Linked DNA regions of Homo sapiens. The protein of the gene in region 7 purifies or fractionates together with the protein of the main gene of each other region. This does not show direct contact. Each region holds a gene or a part of one and is shown on either strand. Other genes may lie near its edges. The genes, in order: TNFAIP2, SGPL1, ATP2B2, SH3BP4, AP3S1, XPR1 and VSIG4.

Region 1 (2,240 bases), on a different chromosome or scaffold from region 7:
CAGATTGGCTGCGGAGAGGCCCACCCTTCCGTGGCAGCTGAGCCCGTCTCTGAATACAAACCAGACCTCCTGTGTCCACAGCTGTAGCTTTCAGGTCAATGCCAGCATGGTAAGAGTCAGTTCCCACTCTGTGTCCCGTGCATGCGGTTGAAATGGCTGCCCCGTGTCCACCCCACCCTCTTCCTCAGTAAAGGACGGTGGAGGAAGCCCCAAAGGGTCACAGTCCCCTTTTTACAGATGAGGAAACTGAGGCACGGAAGGGTGAAGTGACTGTCCATGCCCTACAGGCAGACACTTCCAAAGCTCCTGCTCACAGTGAGGGGATGGTGGGCCATCTCCTGCCTGGACCACATGAGGTGCTCTGGGGGCTGGGACAGGCTGGGGATTGACACAGAACCTAGGTAGGTTTGCCCGGACCCCTAGAGGCTCAGAAAGCTGCTAAGGCTGCCTGGCTGGGCCCCCCATCATTGTGCAGCTCCCAAAATAAATCACTCCACAGCCACTTTTGAATTCTGTTTTATATCAAGCTATAAAAACCTGGATCCTGTTCAACATACATACAAAAGCAGTACTCTAAAAAATAATTATTATTATATTAACAATATCAAACACGCTAACTCCTACACACGTACAAAGACCTTGGGCATCCTTTATACCGGCCACTTCCTGGCCACAGCTTTGTAAGGCAGTACCTGGGAAAAGGGGACGGACCCAAGAGAGCCGGCCCCAAATCCTGACTCAGCACTGCAGAGGCATCAGCCGGGCTGAGTCATGCCTGAGTCCGAAGGGCCCCCTCTCAGGCTGAGAAGGAACTTTCAGGCCCAGGGAGGAGCAGAGCCTTAGGGGGAGCACATGCCGAGCAGGAAAACGAGCTCACATTTTCCTGGGGTAGAGCGAGGTGCCCGGCAGGGCAGGGGATGAACGGAGGGTGCGGTGGGCAGAATAACGGCCTCCCAAAGATGTCCACGTGACAGTCCCCAGAGCCTGTGACTATGTTAGGTTACACAGCCAGTGGGAACTAAAGTTGCAGATGGAACTAAGGTGGCTAATCAGCTGACCTGAAAATAGAAAGACGACCTGGGTTCTCTGGGTAGGCGCAATGTGATCATAAGCGTCCTTAAAAGCGGTAGAGCAGGCCGGGTACAGTGACTCATGCCTATAATCCCAGCACTTTAGGAGGCTAAGGCTACAAGATCCCTTGAGCCCAGGAGTTCCAGACAAGCCTAGGCAACAGAATGAGACCCTGTATCCACAAAAAATATGTAGCTGGGCGTGGGGGATTGTCTCAGGGGACTGAGACAAGAGGATCACTTGAACCAGGAGGTCCAGGCTGCAGTGAGCCTTGATGCCATGACCAGGCCACTGCACTCCAGCCTGGGCAACACAGCAAGACCCTGTCTCAAAAAAAAAAAAAAAAAAGTGGTGGAGGGAGGCAGGAGAGGGGAGGCCTCAATGAGGTGACGGGAAAAAGATTCAACTACCCACAGCTGGCTCTGAAGATGGAGGAGCCTGAAGTCAAGAATTACGGTCAGCCTCTAAAAATGAAAAGGCCAGAAATGAATTCTCCCCTAGAGCCTCCAGAAGGAGTGCAGGACTGCCGACACCCAGATTTGAGCCCCGGGTCAGCCTTCTGACCCGCAGAACTGGAAGACCTCGTTTTGATCCACGAAGTTTGTGGAAACCTGTCACGGCAATAGGAAACAAATACAGAGGCCAAAGGGTCAACAGTGAGAGGTCAAGCTTGCCCTGCCCCTGCCCAGACCTCAGCCAGACTTCTGGGTGGCAGGGCCCACGGTGGCACCCCCAGGGCCTGTCCCTGCCTTGGGGAAGGGGGAGCCTGAGAGGACCCAGGAGGTCTTGGGCCCTTCGGTAGTAGACACCAAGCCCTCGGGGGACCACCCTCTAGTTGAGGCCTTGGGGGATGAAGAGGGAGGGCTCAGGGCCCCATTGCAGGGCCAGCCTGTAGGGGCCGTGGGGCCACCTGGATGTGACGTCTAATGCTGGCGGTGCTCACAGCTCGCCACAGGACCCTAAAAGCCCCTGCCAGACGAGAGCTCATCTTTTCCTTCTTTCTCTTCCAGTTCTGTCTTCCATTCCACCATTGCTGAATCCCGCTCACGGCGGCCCTGGGCTGCAGAGGGCAGATGGGTGAGGCTCGGCCCCTGTCTCCAGAGAGCTGAAGAGGGCCCTCGGCCCCACCCACGAGGAGGACAGTCATGAGGCCGACTGTGGAGGGGCTC
Region 2 (3,500 bases), on a different chromosome or scaffold from region 7:
ACAAGGACCAGAATCACTTTTACTGCAGCATGGCCAGTTTTCTGGCCACTGTTCCTAGTTATACCTTTGATTCTTTTACACACACACTGTAGCTGCTGCCAAGGCAGGATCAAAGTCCAAATACTGCCCTCAAGGATGTGCTGACTTTAGCAATGCCAACCAAGTGAAGCAGCAGTGATGTCAATGTGGCAGAGAAAAGGGTTATGGGGAAATTGGGTGCAACTTTTTTTTTTTTTTTTTTGAGACAGAGTCTTGCTCTGTTGCCCAGGCTGAATGGAGTACAGTGGTGTGATCTTGGCTCACTGCAACCTCCACCTCCTGGGTTCAAGTGATTCTCATGCCTCAGCCTCCCAAGTAGCTGGGATTACAAATGCCTGCTACCATGCCTGGCTAATTTTTGTATTTTTAGTAGAGATGGGGTTTCACCATGTTGGCCAGGCTGGTCTCGAACTCCTGACCTGTAATGATCTGCCCACCTCGGCTTCCTGAAGAGCTGTGATAATAGGTGTAAGCCACCGCGACCGGCTGAGTGCATCTTGACCTTTAGAGAGAAGCTTCGCTTTTCAAATTTTTAAGAGGCTATTGTACATGCCAGAAAGTAGCTGATCAGTCAGAATATCACCATATATCTTTAGGAAAAATGTTAGTTTAGTTACTTGTGCGGTGCCTAGCATTGAGCAGTTGCTTGACTGTCATAATAATTCTGCTGTCTCTACTGTACTCTTGCATCTGGATAACTTTGTCTTTCTTACCTTTGGAGATTCAAGACAAGTTGAACAAGACCAAGGATGATATTAGCAAGAACATGTCATTCCTGAAAGTGGACAAAGAGTATGTGAAAGCTTTACCCTCCCAGGGTCTGAGCTCATCTGCTGTTTTGGAGAAACTTAAGGAGTACAGCTCTATGGGTATGATGCTTGGCATATACATGCTCTCTACTTCCTTAAAGAGACAGGTTTTGTCATTGTTTAATGTTCACATAGGTTAAGAATAACTCATCATTGGTTAATACATGTTTAGGAGGGCCTACTCTCTGTTTCACAGGTTGAATTTCCTATTTTTAAAATTATGTTTAGATTCATCCTTCATCCATAAAGCAAGCAAATCTCAGAGACAGTGGAACTTGGCTTTTATTTCCTTTTGTAAGCATGAATAAAACAAATATATTTGTGTTTAAGAAGAGAGAATATAAGATATGTAATACAAATGAAATACAGATCCATGTAAAAATGTGAAATCTGCATAAAGGCACAAAAGAAAATAAGTCACTATAATTCCACTATCAAAGATAAACAGATGGTGTCTATCTTTATGCATGTAGCTATAGGTAGAGCTGTCTATATAGTTTACATCTATCTATATATGTATATCTGTCTGTTTCTGAGAATGCTAATAGTGTTTGTCTGTGTGTATACACATGTATGCATGAGCACATATGGGATGGATAAATAGACCAAATAGCTTGGTGCTTAAGAGCGTAACCCTGGAACCAGCCTGGATTCATACCTTGGTTTGCCACTTAAAGTATGCCTTTGGCGAGTTACTTCTGTATGTCACAGTTCCTGTATCTCTACAATGGGGATAGTAATAGTAGTACAGTACTTACCTGAAAAGATGATTATGGGGATTAAATGAGATCATACATGTATAAATGTTTTATAGTGCCTGGCATATAGTAAGGATTCAGTAAATGTTAAACATTATTGCTATTATTAACTCAAACAGATTTATGTTTGTTACTGATTAAGATCATATTACAAGTACTTTTTAAAAAGAAGCTTTTTAGTTTGATATATTTACAGAAAAGTAGCAAAGATGATAGAGATTTCCCTATACCCAGCTTCTCCTGATGTTAACATCCTCTATAACCATGGTACGTTTATCAAAACTAAAAAATTAACATTGGTACAGTGCTATTAACTACACTACAAATTCTATTTCTAGTTCATCAGGGTTTTTTTTTGTTTTGCTATGTTTTGTTTTAAACTAATGTTCTTTTTTCTATTCTAGGAGCCAACCAGGAGCCATGTTGCATTTTGACAAATACCCTTATTTTTTATTTTTTGAGACAGAGTCTCACTGTGTTGCCCAGGCTGGAATGCAGTGGTGTGATCTCAGCTCACTGCAACTTCCACCTTCCAGGCTTAAGCAATTCTCGTGCCTCAGCCTCCCAAGTAGCTGAGATTACAGGCGTGCGGCACCATACCCAGCTAATTTTTTGTGTTTTTAGTAGAGATAAGATTTCACCATGTTGCCCAGGTTGGTCTCGAACTCCTGAACTCAGGTGATCTGCCCACCTTGGCCTCCCAAAGTGCTAGGATTACAGGTGTGAGCCACTGTGCTCGGCCTTGACAAATACCCTTACAATTTCTAAGTGACATGTGTTGAGGTCTTGACATTGAATAGTACAAAATTTGATATAGTCTAGGATGTAGATGAATAAAGCAGTGGTTAGCACTCTAAAACCTGGTGTTAAAGATTTCCATGATTATGAGACCTGGTTGCCGCCATCATATTGCCTTCTCTTTAATGTTTAAGTCACTGTCCATTGCTGTATTCTCTAGCATCAGTAAAAGAACAGGAAATGAAACCAGTTATCTTATTTTTGAAAGGCTGGTGACCACTGGTCTGAAGCTGTGTATAGTACAGAGCAGTGTCCTCTAAGGAAAGAGTGAAAGTCAAACGGGCAGCAAGCCAGAGCTTGGCAGATTGCTGTAAGAATGAGTTTGTCTGTATATTTACCACTTAGTTTTCTGTTCTCAAGAGCTGAAGATCTTTGCTTTGGAGAGCCCTTGGCTCCATGCAGTTTTTAGTTGGTGTGTTTCCGTAATAGCTTTCTCACTACCCACTTTCAATAGGGCACAGCTGCATTGTAGCACAAGGACCTGAGACACCCATATCAACAAATTTGTGGGTAAAATGAAGAATGTCTCGGGGAGAGAGGAAAGTGGAAAGTCAGATCTTATATTCTACTCAGGAACTTTACTTTTCTTTCCACACTGGGATAAAGGAGGTTTATCCCAATGTTGACTGTGTTCCTGATCTTGAATATGCTACAGCGTGTGCTGCTGGAAGCAGGTAACTAGTTTTATGTGGGTTTCCAGGCTTGGCTTAAGGGAGCCGGCGTCTGAGACCGGGGTGCTCATGGTTTATACCTCATTGTGGTTTGTTTGCTGGTTTCATCTCTGATGATAGTGTGCTGAAATTTCACACTTTTCATTTTGCTTTCTTCTGCCAACTCTGCTCATAATAGTTCTCAAAATTCCTAGGACTGGATAGGAAAGGAGAGAAGAAGGAAGCTATTGCAGAAAAAGGCCACTCCAAAGCCATATAGAGAACAAAAAATAAGTATAGACAAAGGCAAATGTTCCTGCTGTTAGAAGGCAGTTGAGGATGAGGACAACATTATTATCAGATTGCCTTTATTGTAGCTAAATGCTATTAATATCTTTTTCACATTGCTGATAATAATGATTTTTCATCTTTATTTTATTGTGCTA
Region 3 (3,500 bases), on a different chromosome or scaffold from region 7:
CCCTCTCCTGCCTCCTGCAGTGAGGGCCAGGCTGTGAGCCTGACAGCTCCCATTTGCTGGGTGACCTTGAACAAGTCACGCCACCTCTCTGAGCCTCATGTCCTCGACTCCCCTGGGGCCAGTGCCTGCACCTGAGCTCTGTGATGCAGTTCCTGGCCCCCAGCAGGTGCTCCATCGATGGGTGCCTCATCCCCGGCTGTTCTGACAGGGACAACCTGGAGTACCCTAAGGCCCCCGAGCCTCTGTGGGGGGTCTCCGCCCTCCCCCAGGCTTTGGTGTGGTCTCCTGCGGACCCACCTGCGTGATGCAGGCGCCTGTGAAGGCCACAATCACGGCCACCACGTTGACGGTGAGCTGGAACTGCAAGAATTTGGAGATGCTGTCATAGACGTTGCGGCCCCACATCACTGCCTTGACGATGCTGCTGAAATTGTCGTCTGTCAGGATGATGTCTGAGGCCTCCTTGGCCACGTCAGTGCCTGCGATGCCCTGTGGGGACAGGGACAGGAGGCTGGGTGGGGTGGCCGGGGGAGGTGACCACTTCTAGCATCACCATCCTCACTCCCTCCACTTCCTCAGTCCTACACAACTCCCAGTGGGCCCAGCACAGCCAGACCACACAGGGACACCCCACTCTTCACGCTCCTCACAGACCCAGCTCCCTTCACCCTCAGGAAGCCTCACCCTGGCCCCCTCTCCCCCTCTGTTATCTTCCTCCTCAGCCTGCAAGTGCCCCCCTTCACACAGCTCCCCCAGAGCAAGAAGCATCCTATGCCTTTCCAGGAAGACCTCGGGGTCAGGCTGAGTCTCGAGAAGGGTGGGCACCCACGGCAGATGGCGGGTGGGCCAAGTGTGAACTGGGGCTCCTGAGTAGCCAGCCCAAGGTTGTGTAGTCCAATCTCCCCAGCCCCCACCACCCCAGGCCCTCTGTGGGCCGTTCCTACCATGGCGAAGCCCACGTCGGCCTTCTTGAGTGCAGGCCCGTCGTTGGTCCCGTCCCCCGTCACGGCCACCACCTGCCGCTGCTCAGTGTGTGTGCTGTCGATGATGCCTGTTGGGGCAGGAGTGTGCTCAGGCCCTGGGCCACTCAGGTGGGAGGCAGCCTGGGCCAGCCCTGGTCCTCGGGAGGGGCCTGGCTGGGCATGGCTTCCTCTCTGGTCCCTGTCCAGCCGCCCCCTCCATCCAGGCTCTTCCCAGCTCCAGGCTGGCCTATAGCTGCCAGCAGGTTACAGTGGGCTCCTTACTGGGCTGGTGCCGACTTGGGGCCCCCTGTGGCCCGGGCCCTGCTCACCTCTCCAGCCCCCTCTTTGCTGTCTGCAACCTGTGGCCACATTGGCATCCATCCTAACCAGAAACACTGTATCCTCTAACTGTGCTCAGGGCCCCCTCTGCCTCAGCAGGGCTCCCAGGGTTTCAGCAGGACCTCACCATCTGTTCCTCCCGACACCACTAGCCAGCACTTTCTCCCTGGGGAGTCCAGGCTTGCTGAGGAGGCCTTGGCTTTGTCATTTGCCAGTGACCTCTGCCCCACCATTCTGGCCCTGACCTCCCTCCAGACATTCATCTTCAATAAAACATTCAACGAATAACAGAATGAACAAATGACATGTGGCCCCAGTCACTGAGCTGGGGCCAGTGGAAAAGGGTGGGTGAAGGATGTCATCGGTGGGGACCTGTGGAGTTTGTGGGACTCCTCATTCATGGGGCTTGCGAGCAGGGATGTCCATGGGCACGACAGGAATTTGGGTATCAGCATCCATGGGTCTCTCATTCTGCACATTGAATGTATCACCAAGGCCTGCCAATTCTGGCTCCAAAATCCCACTGAAACCCTTCCTTTTCTCTGTCTCCACCCTCTGCCACCAGCATCACTTTGTTTCCTCTCACTGACTCTGGACTCCCCCTCCAACTTGCTTCCCCACAGCAACCTCAGGATCTCTCTAACACCCATGTCTGAACCAGTTCCGTCCCCCAGCCATCCCCGGAATGTCGTTTTCCTGCTTCCCCCCTTGGTCTCAGGATAACATCCATGTTCTTAGCTCCACTTATGAAGTCCTCTGTGACCAGGCCTCACTCACATCCTGACCTCTTCTCTTCTCTCATCCCCTGGCCACCCCCAATCTGTGCTTACGGTCCCACAGAGCTAGCTCTCACTGGCCCTGTGTCTGGGCAGGCTGTTCCCTTGGCTGGAGGTACTCCTGTCACCCACCTGTACTGTATTTTTGGCTCAGAGGCTGCTTTTCCCAGGAAGCCTTTCTGACCCTCTGAGGATCCCTGCCTGCCCTTAATCAGATCCATGTAACTCTATGTGCTGCTCCATCCTTGCGCATCTCTCTGCTCTGTGCCTAGCAGACGGCAGCAGCCTGTGGAATGAGGCGCTGAGTTCCATAACCTGGGGCACTGTGCCCCCAACCTGCTCCCTTGCAGCTCTACCCTCTTTCAGGCCCAGCTGCAGTGCCGTGTGTTCTGGGAATCGTTCTGGGCTGCTCCCACCCAGCTGTCGGTGACCCCTCAGTTCCACCGTCCTGGACTCAGCCTCCCCAAGCTTGTCCCCTTGGGACATTAGGCCTGAGTTTCCATAGTTCCCTCAGTCAGCCTGGGGGCTCCTCCAAGGCAGGGACGGGTCAAATTTCTGCCCTGTGGCTCCCAGGTGGTGCGGACCGTTGCGTAGCTCAAGCTGTGCGGAAAGCTGGGAGGAAACCTCTCCCTAGACGCCTCCCTGCCTCCAGTCCTGGGGTGGCCTGACTGTGTGCAGTCACCAGGGGCCTCCCTGTGGCTGCTTCCTATGGTCACATTTCTGTTCTGTCCCCGCAGACCTCTCAGCAACTATTTCCACCATGGACCACACCTTCCTCCTCCACAGGCCTCCTTCCTTGTCTTCCCGGCACCACTCCCCACTGACCATCCTCCTGCCCCTCTAGCCTCCTCCCCTTGGCCTCCTCTGTAGGTTCTCAGCCTGCACCATCACTCGGGCAGCTCTTGGCTTCTGCAGCTCCTCTCTCCCCACCCACATGTGCCACCCAGGACTCTGTCTCAGGCCTGCTCTCCCTCCTCGCTCGATGTCCAATGCTCTTCTCCAACAGGTATAGACTGATGGGATCCCAGACCCTCCTGCTCCTCATCCCTCCATGACATGCAAACCACCACCCAGCCCAGACCCCTCCACTACCCAAACTTTCTCAGACCCGCACCTGGCAGCTCCACTTGAGGTGTCACCACTGTGGGCAGGTGACAACTCTTAAGCAGGACAATCCTACAGGTCCCTCCACTGCCAGGCCGTGCTCTGCACTGCAGGGTAAGTTTTCTAAAATGATGCTTCTACCCTCTAAACCCTCCCATGTTCCTGTGCCTGGTGACACGGTGCAGGCCATGACGGGGTGCTCGTGGTGGGCATTGGCGGCCCTGCAGGATCTGCTGCCCTCCCACCTGCTCCAGTCTCCTGTAGCTTCCCTCTCCCACCCCGAGGTCCTGGCCCAGATCCTTGAAGGCATCTGGGGATC
Region 4 (3,500 bases), on a different chromosome or scaffold from region 7:
TGCATTTTGTCCTCTCCAAAGCTCATTGAGGAAATACACTTTTTGTCCACCATGAGTGGAGTCTTAGGCTCTGGAGATCACACAGTTTCTAAGGGCTCCACTCGAGTCTGGGTTTAGTGATCCCAGAGCCGGGTTCTCTGAGACACCCAGATAGACGGGCCTGCTGTAATTTCACAGGAGGAGGTAGGTGGGGCTTCAAGGCCCAGGGATGCTCCCAGCTAAGCGCATCTCTGTAACCCAGTTAATGTAAATGAATAGAAACTGTCTACCTGATTTCCTAACACTTTCCCAAGGAAGTGTGATTATTTCCTTTCAAAGGAAAAGGAAACTGGCAGGTGATTTTCTGGGGTCGGGGGGGCAATTTGATAGAATACGATGACTGTGGACTTCATCACATTAGAAAAGATGTAGGTTTAGTTTAACTAAAAACGGATTCCTTTCTTTGGTCATTTGCTTTGGCAACTTAAAAAAAAAAAAGAAAGAAAGAAAGAAAGAAACGTTTCCTTTCTTTCTTTCAATTGTTTATTACGGGAAGCCAGAATGTCAGCAGACTCCGTAAGTGAGGCAGTTTGGGAGGTGGGGGAGGGGAGTCCTGGGGAGAAGTATATGTGCTTATTTTCTTCAGAAAGAGTGTTCTTCATCTTCTGAATATATCTTCTCATTTAATCATATCCATTATTTTTCAAAACACACCACTTGTTTGGCTGACTTATTTTTGCTGTTTCATTTGCCGTCTACATTGGTAACATACAGAGTTCAATGGCAGGAGCCATGAATTAACTTGATTCACTTTTTGAAGGGTTGGAATTTTTCAGACTGCTTCAACACTTGTTCAATGATAGTATGAGCTATGACTAGGCATAATCTCTCATTTTCAAGGTATGTAGACAGTCTGTTTTCATGTTGTGATTTTGAATGATAATTTAAAAGAGGTTGGGCCAGGCGCAGTGGCTCACACCAGTAATCCCATCATTTTGGGAGGCTGAGGCGGGAGGATCACTTGAGGTCAGGAGTTTGAGACCAGCCTGGTCAACATGATGAAACCCCATTTCTACTAAAAATACAAAAATTAGCCAGGCATGGTGGCACACACCTGTAATCTCAGCTACTTTGGAGGCTGAGGCAGGAGAATCACTTGAATCTGAGCGGCTGAGGTTGCAGTGAGCTGAGATCATGTCAATACATGCCAGCCTGGGTGGCGGAGTGAGACACTGTCTCATAAATAAATAAATAAATAAGTAAAATAAGAATAAAAGAGGTTGGAAGGAACTGACTTCAGAATTCTTACTTTATCTGAGGAAACAGTTTGGTGAGGAACAGGTTGAGTTTGGAAATTTAAGAAGCAGGTTGAGGGAAGCTTTCCATCCAGAGGCAGAGCTTGGAATCAGCTCATACATGTCATTGCGGGAGTTTTTGGAATCTGTTCATTTCCAGTCCCTGATCACATGCAGTGGTCACCTAACTCACCGTGTCACCGTGTTTTCTAAGTTAATCACATTCAGTTTCTCTTTGTATCTAGTAGCAGTTCTTTTAAGAAGAATTTTAACGTTGCCCAAAATGAGATGTTTAGGGCGTAGGGCATGTTAAATATTCCATTGCACTGATTTGCCTTTCTGTGAGTGATGGAGAGGCTCCTCTGTGGTCTTTCTGCCGGACATAGGCTGTCGATTTTGAAGGTGACCAAGTAGCAGGAACCAGTTCGTTGGCCAGGTAAATTACCTACTGAATTTCACTTTGGTTTGTTTCTGTTGGTGACTTGCCTGGGTTATTGTGCACCTGTCTGTTTACCACCGTCCTCTCTCCTTTGGGAAGCTCTCCGGACACCCCGCCGGCCTTGCCCTCACCATCTGTTTTCTTTGTGTTTTGCACAGTGCCTTCTCCCAGTGCCTTGCTCGTAGACAACCCCACACCTTTCGGAAATGCAAAGGAAGTGATTGCGATCAAGGACTATTGCCCCACCAACTTCACCACACTGAAGTTCTCCAAGGGCGACCATCTCTACGTCTTGGACACATCTGGCGGTGAGTGGTGGTACGCACACAACACCACCGAAATGGGCTACATCCCCTCCTCCTATGTGCAGCCCTTGAACTACCGGAACTCAACACTGAGTGACAGCGGTATGATTGATAATCTTCCAGACAGCCCAGACGAGGTAGCCAAGGAGCTGGAGCTGCTCGGGGGATGGACAGATGACAAAAAAGTACCAGGCAGAATGTACAGTAATAACCCTTTCTGGAATGGGGTCCAGACCAATCCATTTCTGAATGGGAACGTGCCCGTCATGCCCAGCCTGGATGAGCTGAATCCCAAAAGTACTGTGGATTTGCTCCTTTTTGACGCAGGTACATCCTCCTTCACCGAATCCAGCTCAGCCACCACGAATAGCACTGGCAACATCTTCGATGAGCTTCCAGTCACAAACGGACTCCACGCAGAGCCGCCGGTCAGGCGGGACAACCCCTTCTTCAGAAGCAAGCGCTCCTACAGTCTCTCGGAACTCTCCGTCCTCCAAGCCAAGTCCGATGCTCCCACATCGTCGAGTTTCTTCACCGGCTTGAAATCACCTGCCCCCGAGCAATTTCAGAGCCGGGAGGATTTTCGAACTGCCTGGCTAAACCACAGGAAGCTGGCCCGGTCTTGCCACGACCTGGACTTGCTTGGCCAAAGCCCTGGTTGGGGCCAGACCCAAGCCGTGGAGACAAACATCGTGTGCAAGCTGGATAGCTCCGGGGGTGCTGTCCAGCTTCCTGACACCAGCATCAGCATCCACGTGCCCGAGGGCCACGTCGCCCCTGGGGAGACCCAGCAGATCTCCATGAAAGCCCTGCTGGACCCCCCGCTGGAGCTCAACAGTGACAGGTCCTGCAGCATCAGCCCTGTGCTGGAGGTCAAGCTGAGCAACCTGGAGGTGAAAACCTCTATCATCTTGGAGATGAAAGTGTCAGCCGAGATAAAAAATGACCTTTTTAGCAAAAGCACAGTGGGCCTCCAGTGCCTGAGGAGCGACTCGAAGGAAGGGCCATATGTCTCCGTCCCGCTCAACTGCAGCTGTGGGGACACGGTCCAGGCACAGCTGCACAACCTGGAGCCCTGTATGTACGTGGCTGTCGTGGCCCATGGCCCAAGCATCCTCTACCCTTCCACCGTGTGGGACTTCATCAATAAAAAAGTCACAGTGGGTCTCTACGGCCCTAAACACATCCACCCATCCTTCAAGACGGTAGTGACCATTTTTGGGCATGACTGTGCCCCAAAGACGCTCCTGGTCAGCGAGGTCACACGCCAGGCACCCAACCCTGCCCCGGTGGCCCTGCAGCTGTGGGGGAAGCACCAGTTCGTTTTGTCCAGGCCCCAGGATCTCAAGGTCTGTATGTTTTCCAATATGACGAATTACGAGGTCAAAGCCAGCGAGCAGGCCAAAGTGGTGCGAGGATTCCAGCTGAAGCTGGGCAAGGTGAGCCGCCTGATCTTCCCCATCACCTCCCAGAACCCCAACG
Region 5 (3,500 bases), on a different chromosome or scaffold from region 7:
AAACATTTTCCAGTGTTCTCTTTTAAATTTAAAATAGTCTTGCATTTTTCTTTATCTCAATTTCCCATTCCTGTTGGTTTCCCAAAGGAGAAGTTTATAGTGGTGATTTAGAGCTAAGATTATCTTAACTAACTATATGTTTTGTTTGTCCTATAGCCAATTTTTAAAATATTGGCTTTTGAAAGTGGAAAACATAAATTAGGTTAATAGAGAAAATTTTGTTTTAGGACAAGGAAAAAGACTCATAATTTAATTTAGTATAACTGACTTGCAATATATTATTTAGTAAAGAAAAGATTATTATAAACCCTGAGCTATTGCTTTTAAAGTCTTAAAAGAACTTAAAATGTGTGTCATTTGTTAAACATTGCTTTGCAAAACTGTATGGTTATAGATTTTAAATGCCAAGGGACAAACAGTGATGCAATCCTTTAATAACTGGTATAAATGAATGAGTATCTAGTAATTTGTGAATTCTGCATAATCATCTGTAAAAAATATTGACCAGTTGTCTGGAATTTTCACCTTTCTAGGTAGTTAACTCCTTTTCATTGGTGGTGGTCCTTCTTTTTCTTCTGCTACTTAAGACATTTATGCCTGGTGTTCCATTATTGGAATGCTAAGCTTGTGGGAGTTATTTATATCCTACTGCTCAAGGTCATCCCCAAGGTCTGATTTTTCACAAAAAAAAGTTTGCAACCTCCGGCATAAATGGGTTAATGTGCTATATTGACAAAAGTTATGAAGGACCTATAATTATTGCATAATGGGTATTTGCTTTTTGATTGTTGAATAAAACTTCGTTAATGAGGCAATTTTTCTTATCTATAAAGAGCAGTAAAATGCGTAATTTACATTTCAATGGAAATAGTTATAAGAATACTATAACTTAAAATCTATTCACAGAAATAATGCTATTTAAAATAGTTTAGAATACTGGTGATTACTTCTATTATTCATTCCCTGATCATCTCGCATCATACATAATTGTTATCTGGTACCAAATTAGTTTCTCTTCTTTTGTCTTTTACAAGAAAGTATGTTTTAAGTCTGATTGGGGATAAACTACAAAATTATATATTTTCTATACATGTAACGTCTGCTAATATTTTAGTTATGAAATCGGATTTCAAGTCAAAGTGAGGCCATTTAGCCCTGATCATCTTTTTAAAACAGCACTGAAAATTATGATGACTAATTTTTCGTAGCTTTTGTATATTTTAAGTATGTTTGAAAGGCTTCTAGCTTTATTCCAGCTAGAATGTCAAAAGCTTTCATATGTTTCATGTCCATGTTACTTCAATTGGTTAAATTTACCAGAGATATTACTCTGCAGAATAATCCAAAATTACTTGAAACAAAGTATAAACTTTTCCTAATCTTCTTACTAAATTTCAGTTAAAATGTATTATATAAGGACAAACTTAATGACTTGTTTGGCTGGGCGCAGTGGCTCACGCCTGTAATCCCAGCACTTTGGGATCACTCAGGTGATCTGCTCACCTGAGGTCAGGAGTTTGAGACCAGCCTGGCAAATATGGTGAAATCCCGTCTCTACTAAAAATACAAAAAAATTATCCAGGCATGGTGGCACTTGCCTGTAATCCTAGTTGCTCTGGAGCCTGACGCGCAAGAATCGCCCGATTCCGGGAGGCGGAGGTTGCAGTGAGCTGATATTGCACCACTGCACTCCAGCCTGCGTGACAGAGTAAGACTCCGTCTCAAAAACAAACACACAAAAAAAGACTTGTTTAAAATCGAGAATGTCATGATTGATGAAAAGAACTGGTTATCAATATTTTTAAAAATTATTTAAGTAATATCTTAGGAACATCATTTATATTTAAAAATCAGTCTGGGTATAATTGAGACACAGCTTTTTAAACATAACATGCATTTATCTAGGGGCCTTTGTCAGAAATCAGAGCTTTTATTATGTTGGTCTAAAGTTAGTACATTTCTGGTAATGGAAAAAAGTGAACCAGTTTAATTCCCAATACCTAGACAGGTGGAAGCAAAGCTCTGCCAGATCCTGAAAGAGAGAAGCAAAGATATACTCTGAATGTATTTCCATCTATTCTATTTTGATAGAAAAATGGTTTACTATAACATTGGAATATTGGGAGAGGAGGGTTTAAGCTGGGAGGTTGATGGGATTCGGGGGAAGTATAAGAGGCACTCAGGAACCTGCCTAAGAATAAAAGGACTCCCTGGGGGTGGAGGTAGAGGGGTGGGGTTGGGGAGATCTGTTAGCTTTTATGTATTTCATGTTATTCTTAAGATGGATAAATGGGTCTGAATTTAGTCACTACTTTTTGAAAGTCAGTCCTCTTTTTTTTCCGAACATCCTGATCTTTCTAGCTCTTTCCATTCTTCTCTCTTACAGACCTTTATCTTTCAGTCTCCCAGACAGGACAGGTAGACAAGGTATTGCTGACTTTGAGAAATATGTACTATAACAAAGGGAAAGCAAAATGATGTCAAAGGCAATTAATTATTTAGGCCAGACTCAAAAATTCTTTGTGTTAATAAACCCATATAGTCCCTGTAGCCTATTTTCCATTCTAGTTTCTCCTTGTAGTTTCTTCATCTTTTATTGGACTTAGTGTATTTTACTAGTATATCATTGATGTCATGTTTGTTCTGTTTTGTCTGCCTGCATTGTAAAAGGAAAGTTTAAATTTTTTTTAAACACTTGTCATCTAACTGACAAATTGCATTTGCAGAAGTGACAATTTACTTTGTATATAAAAACGTAAAATTTATTTTGAGCATCATATAGCAGAACCAATCTTAATTTAACTCTCACAGATTTGTTTTTTTTCCATCTCTAAATTAGGATTCTAACATAAAATTGCCTGCTGGGTTTTGGAAGCTGTGAATTTAAAAACCAAAAGCTGAACCTTCAGAGTTTTGCATACAAAATGGGAAGCAGTGAAGGCTTAGAATAGTGACTGTTAAATAGTACTTTTTCCCCTCAAATGGTTTTCAGTTCCAAAGTCTTAACAGAATTGCTTTTACAGTTTTGACCTGCAGGTGCATATTAACAGTGGCCAACAGAAAATAAGATCAGAAATCTTATAAAACTTGACTGTATTTCAAACTAGAATGCTCGAAAAATGGAATTACCAAATTACCAAATCACCAAAATACAATGGGTTTTCATTGTAGCAAACCTTCTGACATCCAAACATGTCATAATCAGAATCAATAAAAATATATTAATGTTTTAGTATTGAATTAAAAACCCTGAATATTTTTGCAAAGCGTATTGGCAAATATTGGAAATATTTTTAATAGACCTCTAGTTTTACAAAACTAATTTTTCTTCTGATATTTCCTGTACGTTTTTTCACACCATAAATTAACTGTGTGAATTACTTTTTTAAAAGTTCCATGTACGTGGTGATGAGCAACTATTTTGTGTGAAACCATGTAAGCAAAAGAAATGTTTATAAGGTCTCTGATTGAAAATTTCAAAATAAAAGTAATTTATTGAG
Region 6 (3,500 bases), on a different chromosome or scaffold from region 7:
TAGTACATTTCAGGTATTTTGTTTTCTAAAAACCTTCAAAAACAAAGCATTGAGACTCCCCTCTGTCTTATTATTACTTAATAGAGTAACAGATTCTAACTGTATTGTTAGTTTCTGACTGAAAGCATCCAAAAGATGGTCATTTGTCTTTTCCAAAGATAAAAAGTTACCTTTAGTTTCAAAAATTGTTTAATTTATCATATATACAAAAGAATGCATATAATTTATTTGGACTGTTAGAAATGAATAATAAAGTGAATCTATAACTACTATCCATATTTAGAAGCTGAACATTTCCATTAACTTTGAATTCCCTATTCCTCCCTGATCCCAAAACCTTCCCTCCGCACCAGAGATAACCACTTCCACATTTTCTTTAGCTTTACCATCTCTACAGGCATTCTTAAACACCCTAATTTTTTGAAACTAATTTTAAAATGTTTATTCAAAAACAACTGACATAAAAAAATTGCACATACTTAAAGTATAGAATTTGTGTCTTTTCTCTCTGGATGCTTTTAAGATTCTTCTCTTTATTTCCAAGCAGTTTGACAATAATATGCTTAGGATTTTTAAAAACTGCTTTACTGACTAAGTTGATATACAATAAACTGTATATATTTAAGGTGTACGATTTGATAAGTTTTGAAACTGCATAAACGTCTACAAAACCATCAGCATAATCAAGACAAAGAACATATCCACGACTCCCAAGAATTTCCCATGTGTCTTTGTAATCCTTTCCTCCCAGCCTACCCTACCCCACTCTATTCACAAGCAACCACTGATCTCCTTTCTGTCACTATTTATTAGTTTGCATTTTTTCTGGAGTCTTAGGTTAATGATATCATATAGTAGGTACCTTTTTTTTCTGCTTTCTCTCCACATAATTAATTTGAGGTTTATCCACATTGTTACATTTATCAATCAGTTATTCCTTTTTATTGCTAAGTAGTGTTTCATTGTATGGATATACCACAAATTGTTTATCCATTCACCTACTGATAGACATTTGGGTTGTTTAGATGCTATGAACATTTGTGTAGAAATCTTTATATGAACATATATTTGCACTTGTCTTGGGTAAATACCTAGGAGTGTAATAGCTAGACCATATGGCAGGTGTACACTTTTAAGAAACTTCCAAACTGTTTTCAAATGTGCTTATTCATTATACATTTTATATTCCACCAAAGCATATTAGAAAAGAGAGTTCCTACTCCTCCATCATTAGTATGATTAGTCTTTTTTAATCATTCTAACAGACAATGTATTATCTTACCGTGGTTTTAATTGGCATTTCCATAATGCCTAATGATATTGAGCATTTTATCACATGCTAATTTGCCACCTGTACATCTGTGAAGAACTGTTCAGGTCTTTTGCCCATTTTTAAAAGTTGGGTTGATTGTTTTCCTTCTATTGAGTATTGGAGTTCTTTATATATTCTAAATATAAGACCTTTAACAGATATGTTTTATAAATATTTTCTGCTAGTCTCTTGCTTTTCTTTTCATTCTCTTAATATGTCTTTTGAAGAGCATACGTTTTTTAATTTTGATGAGGTGCTTTTGGTGTCATTTCTAAGAAATCTTTGCATAACCCAAAGTCATTAGGACTTTCTTCTATATTTTCTTCTAGAAATTTGTAGTTTCCAGTTTTCATTTAGATCTATGGTACATTTAGAACTGTATGTTGTGAAGTATGGATGAAAGCTCATTTTTTTTTTTTTTTGGTATATGGAATTCAACTGTTTCAGCATCCTTAGTTGAAAATGCTACCCTTCTCCACTAATCTGCTTTATATCTTTATCAAATATCTGTTGTTCGTAATATGTTAGTCTATTTTTGGACACTCTATTCTGGTCCATTGATCATTTGCCTACCATGACACTATTACCACACTCTCTTGATTACTGCAGCTTTAATAAGCTTTCATAAGGTAATGTTAATCCTTCAATTTATGTTCCAAAGTTGCTTTGGCTATTCTAGGTCCTCTGCCTTTCCATATACTTTTCTTTTTTTGGAGACAGAGTCTTGCTCTGTCACTCAGTGCAGTGGCGCGATCTCGGCTCACTGCAACCTCCACCTCCTGGGTTCAAGTGATTCTTGTGCTTCAGCCTCTCAAGTAGCTGGGATTACAGGCATGTGCCACGAAGCCCAGCTAATTTTTGTATTTTAGTCGAGATGGGGTTTCATCATGTTGGCCAGGCTGGTCTTGAACTCCTGGCCTCAAGTGATCCACCTGCCTCAGCCTCCCAAATTTCTGGGATTACAGGCATGAGCCATCGTGCCTGGCCTCCATATAAATTTTTAAATCTGCTTATCAATTTTACAAAGAAGTCTTCTGAGATTTCTGAGCTGGAACGTATTATATCTATAAATCACCTCAGGAAGAAACAACGTATCTTTAAAATACTGGGTGTGTGCAATATACCCATGAACATAGCATCTCTCTCATCCAAGTCTTTAATTTTGCTCAGCAGTGTTTTGTAGTTTTCAATGTAAAGGCCTTACACATCTTTTGTCAGAATTATTACTAAGCATTGTATATTTTGATGATATTATAAACAGCATTGCTTTAACATTTTTTGATTTCCAATTGTTCTTGCAAGTATCTAGACAAATGATTTTACATATTGGTCTTGTATTTGGCAACCTTGCTAAACTCATTTGTTAGTTATAGTAGCTATTCTATAGATTCACTAGATTTTCTACATAGATCATCAAGTCACTGGCAAAACCCCACTGGTTTTACTTCTTCGTTTCTACCCTGAATGTCTTTTATTTCTTTTTCTTCCCTTACCGCACTGGCTATAATCTCCAGCACAATGTTGAATACAGGTGTTAAAAGTGAATACCCTTTTTTGGGCCAAGTCTTAGGGAGAAAGCATGCAGTGTTTACCATTGAGTATGATAATAATTGTAGAGGTTTTATTTTTTTTTTAATAGATGCCTTTCATTAGGCTATGGAAGCTCTGTTATTGATTTCTATTCCACTGTTGTCTGAAAATATACTTTGCATGACTTAAATCCTTCTATATTTATTGAGACTTGTTTTATGACACAGAAGATATCACTTAATAAATTTTCTTTTTTTATAACTACTGTGTAGATATCATTTAATAAATGCTTTTTTGGAGTAAGCTATATAGCAATCCAGTATATCTGAACCCACCAGATCATTTTTTTTAAATCACATCTTAATCATTTGATGATACCAGTAAGTTAACATGTCAGTAAGAATAAACAAGAAAGTACAGTATGAGAAGAGAAAGGTGGAAGACATTATAATTCAGAATGAAGTAAAATATAGCATATAATGTTTAAAAAACTAAAATAAGAAAAATAGCAACTACTTATAAACTTTGGCTGAAAATTTTTTTAAGATAATGGGGCCAGCTAAATACTGTGTTGATTATTAAATAGGTGAAACCAAACAAACTACTGGAACCAAATACTAACCTGAGCAGCTCCCAAAGGGGGGACACGTAAACGCTT
Region 7 (4,134 bases):
CAAAGGAGGGTTCTGTGAAGTTCAGGGTTTCCTGAGTGAGGACCCGGTGGGAAAAAATGGCTGAAATTTCCAGTGAGATGGAATGAGTGCAGTACTCAAAAAACAAGGAACAACCAGCCAAGGGGGATTGGGCCCTAGAGGCAGAGGTGATTGATAGAATTCCATGTAATAATGTGTCCTGAAATGCTGGAATGTCTCCTTAGCCCGTGCACAGCTCCAAATCATCTGCATGCAGCCACCCCTTGGCAAGTATGTTTCTTTATATTCCCACTCCCCATCTCTGCACAAACTCCTCCCTCCCCTGACCAAGTCCTTTCCTATCCCTCCAATCAAAGAGTAAACTAAGCTTAGCTGTTACTTACAGTGCAGTATGAATTTTTGGGATGTATTTGTGCTTTTGAAAGTGCTTATTGTTTCAAAGCTTAGTAGACAAAGCGCAGTGCCAAACCTAGTTAGACTGCTGATGAAATTACAGTCACTCTGGGGCCTGTGAAGAGGAGCAATTTCTGGAGCAGTTGAGCTTTGCTAGGAGGCATAATATTACTCTCTTGTAGGTCAAGGGCCTGTACCAATTGGAAGTCAATGAAAAATTCAACCTAATACAGCATACCACTAATGGGCTGCTGCACTGGAGGCTAGGCTTAAATTTCCCTTAAAAGAAGTAAAAAATAAATTCCTTATGAAAAAGCATGGAGAACATTAATGAAAATGAATTCTCCCTTACCATCAGAGAGGTGGAGCCATTGTAGAAAGTGATTCAAAGAGCTTCCCCAATATGAGATATGAGGCATATTCACCCATAACAGCCTTATCCATTGGCTTGTCAATTATTCAAGCTTTGATGTGTAGAAAGCCCTTTAATACACTAAACTCTTGTACTCTTAAGCCCAAAAGCACCCCGGGCCCAACACCCTGTCCAGTTGCATAGGCTGCACAGGCAAGGGTTAACAGTACAACTAATGAAAATTGGGTAGGTCAGCAAAGTTGATCTCTTCTCCCTGGGCTCACCACAAAGGAAAACACCGCCATACTGGAGTGGGAAGACTCATCCCAAAGGTCGCCCCCACAACCTCTGAATCTTGTGGAGGAGACTCAAAATAAATACAGCCTAGGAGATCAAAGACCAGAAAGCCCCATTGGCTCCAAGGAAAGTCAAGTCAATACCCTAGCAGGGGGAAGAATTGCTTCACTCATCCTGGAACCTCCAACCCCAAGGAGGTGGGGGAAGGGGGGCACCCCACATGACCTGTACTGAAATAGGGAAGGAAGGGGAATGTGTGATGGGACTAGGAGTTTGAGTGAGAGATATAGGGAAGGAAGGGAAGTAAGCAGTCACAGACGCTGGCGGCCACCAGAAGTTTGAGCCTCTTTGGTAGCAGGAGGCTGGAAGAAAGGACAGAAGTAGCTCTGGCTGTGATGGGGATCTTACTGGGCCTGCTACTCCTGGGGCACCTAACAGTGGACACTTATGGTAAGGCAGAAAGGGGGGCCTGGCTGCCATTGCTGGCTTAGGCAAAAGGCTAGAGGGTTGGTGTTTAATGTCTACTATGGAAAGCCTATTCCTACTGGGCAGGTGAGTCTTCTCAGCCAAACTCTGCAGGCTCTCTCAGCCTTGAGCAAAACGGATGGATGTAGTTGAAGGCTGCTGAAGAAGCCAGAAGGCAAGTTTGGGCAGAAATTGAAAAAGGATTTTTCTCTTGGAAAACATCTGCATTATTTTCTAGGGCTTGTATCTCAGGGGCATCAAGAAGGTTCCCAATGACATCCGAATCTTTCCTCCATCTGCTGTCTCTCATCTAAAATTCTACAATTGGACTTAACCACTCTGCTTCCAAGCTTTGGTCTCTGTTAAAATATACAGCCCCCGAAGAAGGAGTGTTTTCTAAGAGTTGGATAGGACTATAGAAGTAACCTATACCACCCTTCATTGTCATGAATAAGTGCTCAGAAACATCCAGTAGTGATTGAGATTTCACTGTTCACTACCTCCCCAGACCATCTAGTCCATCCAGGAGCAGCTCCAACTGTTAGAAAGTTCTTATTTGTGTTGAACTAAATCCAGTTCCCTCTGACTTCCATCCAAAAACCCCAGCTTTGCTTCTTGGGGCTACACAGAACATAGATGCTTCCTTGCCCTGTGATAGCCCTTCAAAGCCCTGAGGACAAGTACTATGTCTCCTTGACTCTTCTCTCCTCCAAGCTGAACAGCCCCAGCTTTTTCAACTGGTCTTCATAGGACTTGGTTTCTTACCCATTCCTGGGATAACTCACTTCCCTATAGACATGGCTCAATTTGTCTGGGCTATTTATGGGCTGGATACAAATCCCAAAGGAGGATGGACTATTCCATAGTGGCATTATTTCCTTGGAGCTTGGGAAGCTCTATCCTCATCTACACTCCTGAGAAGTGAGATGGATTTTCAGGAAACTCAACCTGGGTAACAGCTAAGTGAGATCCAATATAGGGTAAAGGGGGATTTTGCTGCTTCCCTATCATCCCTAGAGAAAAAGGCTGGATAGGTGTTAGCTTGGTGTCACTTGTTAGGTCAGAAAGAATCCAGCTTTCCGTAGCTGACTCTGATTAGGTTACCCTATCCTGGGGCTCTGTGACCCATCACACTCTGGAACCTCAGAGTTAGAAAAGACTCTGAATTAAGTCAACCAAGAGAAAAAATAATTTGCCCCCAAGCCAAAGAGCATTAGTGGCAGAGTTAATGCTCCTGAAAAAACATTTTTCTTTCTATAACTACCACATTTCCATTCTCTAGCAGGTTTTATAATGTATCTCTCTACCTTCTCCAAGTCTGTTGGTTTGAGCTAGGGCTTAAGCCTGGGGCTTGAGGGAGCATTTTAGAAATGTTAAATTTAAATCCTTTGTTTGTGTGTGTGTATGTGTGTGTGCATTCATGTGTGTGTGTGTGTGTGTGTGTGTGAGAGAGAGAGAGAGCACTCATGTGTCTTGTTCCTTCCCCAGCCTATGAGCTTTTCCAGACCTGGAAGCAGGCCTTCCATTTGTACACAGGATCTTATACTATAGACCTCAGGCTCAGGTTATGCTGAGCTGCAAATAATACCTTCCCTCTCCCTGGACCTCATTGTTCCTAGCCCATCTGTACAGTGAGGAGGTTGACTTGACTGGTCTTAAAGGGGTTTCTCAGCTGGACAACTCTGTGGGACTGCAGCTTCACTGCTAAAAACCCTGTAGCGGCCAGAGTAAGCTGCTAGCCTCTTCCTGTGGGGCTAAGAGATATGTCAAGATAATCAAAATTTAAAAAATTTCTAATATTCACATTTTATATACATTTTAAACATTTCAGAAACATTTTATAAACATCTATTATATAAGTTAATCCTCCATCCAGGAGGCATTCCAGGAAAGGGAGAGAAGCCAGTCATGTGGGGGAATGGGATAGAGATATGGAAAATGTCAACCTCTTTGTGATGATGGGAGGAAGGGGATTCAGAAAGAGACCTAGAATGGGTCTTATAAAGGAGCACACACCTAGTAAATTCAACCTTTCTTTTCTTCAGTGCCATTACACAGGCATCAGACATTTGCTTTTATAAGGCTGGGTCTCAGGACCACATTAAGCTCAATACTGTATATATACTTATCAGCAATAAGTATATATACTTATCAGCAATAAGTATATATACGTATCAGTAATAAGTTTATATACTTAGTAATAAGTATATATACTTATCAGTAATAAGTATAATATAATATAATGTTATATATTATATATAAGTAATTATCAGTAATAATTATATAATTATTATATATTATATATAAGTAATTATCAGTAAAGTGGAAGTAATAATAAAGGAAGTAATATAATATAATAAGTATATAAATATATAATATAATATAATATATTATGAATATATTATATTATATTATTATTATATAATATATATTATATATTGTATTATATAATTATTATATATATTATATTATTATATAATTATATTATATATTATATTATTATATGATATATATTATATATTAATATTATTACATAATATATATTATATATTATATTATATTATTATATAATATATATTATATATTATATTATATTATTATATAATATATATTATATATTATATTATTATATAATATATATTATATAT

The links.
Region 1: the proteins of VSIG4 (region 7) and TNFAIP2 purify together in Homo sapiens (co-immunoprecipitation; 2 studies listed by BioGRID and IntAct, with this or other methods). This does not show direct contact.
Region 2: the proteins of VSIG4 (region 7) and SGPL1 purify together in Homo sapiens (affinity purification with mass spectrometry; 3 studies listed by BioGRID and IntAct, with this or other methods). This does not show direct contact.
Region 3: the proteins of VSIG4 (region 7) and ATP2B2 purify together in Homo sapiens (affinity purification with mass spectrometry; 3 studies listed by BioGRID and IntAct, with this or other methods). This does not show direct contact.
Region 4: the proteins of VSIG4 (region 7) and SH3BP4 purify together in Homo sapiens (affinity purification with mass spectrometry; 3 studies listed by BioGRID and IntAct, with this or other methods). This does not show direct contact.
Region 5: the proteins of VSIG4 (region 7) and AP3S1 purify together in Homo sapiens (affinity purification with mass spectrometry; 3 studies listed by BioGRID and IntAct, with this or other methods). This does not show direct contact.
Region 6: the proteins of VSIG4 (region 7) and XPR1 purify together in Homo sapiens (affinity purification with mass spectrometry; 3 studies listed by BioGRID and IntAct, with this or other methods). This does not show direct contact.

Annotation. Positions count from the first base shown.
Region 1 is NC_000014.9:103,135,700-103,137,939, reverse strand, and holds the end of TNFAIP2 (tumor necrosis factor alpha-induced protein 2), read right to left. Parts: 3' UTR 2,132-2,240; coding exon of another isoform or gene 1,937-2,131; 3' UTR 501-1,936; downstream 1-500. UniProt on the Homo sapiens protein: May play a role as a mediator of inflammation and angiogenesis.
Region 2 is NC_000010.11:70,853,948-70,857,447, forward strand, and holds part of SGPL1 (sphingosine-1-phosphate lyase 1), read left to right. Parts: intron 1-760; coding exon 761-908; intron 909-1,840; coding exon of another isoform or gene 1,841-1,873; intron 1,874-3,500. UniProt on the Homo sapiens protein: Cleaves phosphorylated sphingoid bases (PSBs), such as sphingosine-1-phosphate, into fatty aldehydes and phosphoethanolamine. Elevates stress-induced ceramide production and apoptosis.
Region 3 is NC_000003.12:10,345,087-10,348,586, forward strand, and holds part of ATP2B2 (plasma membrane calcium-transporting ATPase 2), read right to left. Parts: intron 1,052-3,500; coding exon 945-1,051; intron 490-944; coding exon 298-489; intron 1-297. UniProt on the Homo sapiens protein: ATP-driven Ca(2+) ion pump involved in the maintenance of basal intracellular Ca(2+) levels in specialized cells of cerebellar circuit and vestibular and cochlear systems.
Region 4 is NC_000002.12:235,039,017-235,042,516, forward strand, and holds part of SH3BP4 (SH3 domain-binding protein 4), read left to right. Parts: intron 1-1,871; coding exon 1,872-3,500. UniProt on the Homo sapiens protein: May function in transferrin receptor internalization at the plasma membrane through a cargo-specific control of clathrin-mediated endocytosis.
Region 5 is NC_000005.10:115,904,435-115,907,934, forward strand, and holds part of AP3S1 (AP-3 complex subunit sigma-1), read left to right. Parts: intron 1-2,386; coding exon of another isoform or gene 2,387-2,422; exon of another isoform or gene 2,423-2,427; intron 2,428-3,500. UniProt on the Homo sapiens protein: Part of the AP-3 complex, an adaptor-related complex which is not clathrin-associated. The complex is associated with the Golgi region as well as more peripheral structures.
Region 6 is NC_000001.11:180,806,522-180,810,021, reverse strand, and holds part of XPR1 (solute carrier family 53 member 1), read right to left. Parts: coding exon 3,465-3,500; intron 1-3,464. UniProt on the Homo sapiens protein: Inorganic ion transporter that mediates phosphate ion export across plasma membrane.
Region 7 is NC_000023.11:66,037,281-66,041,414, reverse strand, and holds the start of VSIG4 (V-set and immunoglobulin domain-containing protein 4 isoform 1 precursor), read left to right. Parts: upstream 1-1,334; 5' UTR 1,335-1,416; coding exon 1,417-1,471; intron 1,472-4,134. UniProt on the Homo sapiens protein: Phagocytic receptor, strong negative regulator of T-cell proliferation and IL2 production. Potent inhibitor of the alternative complement pathway convertases.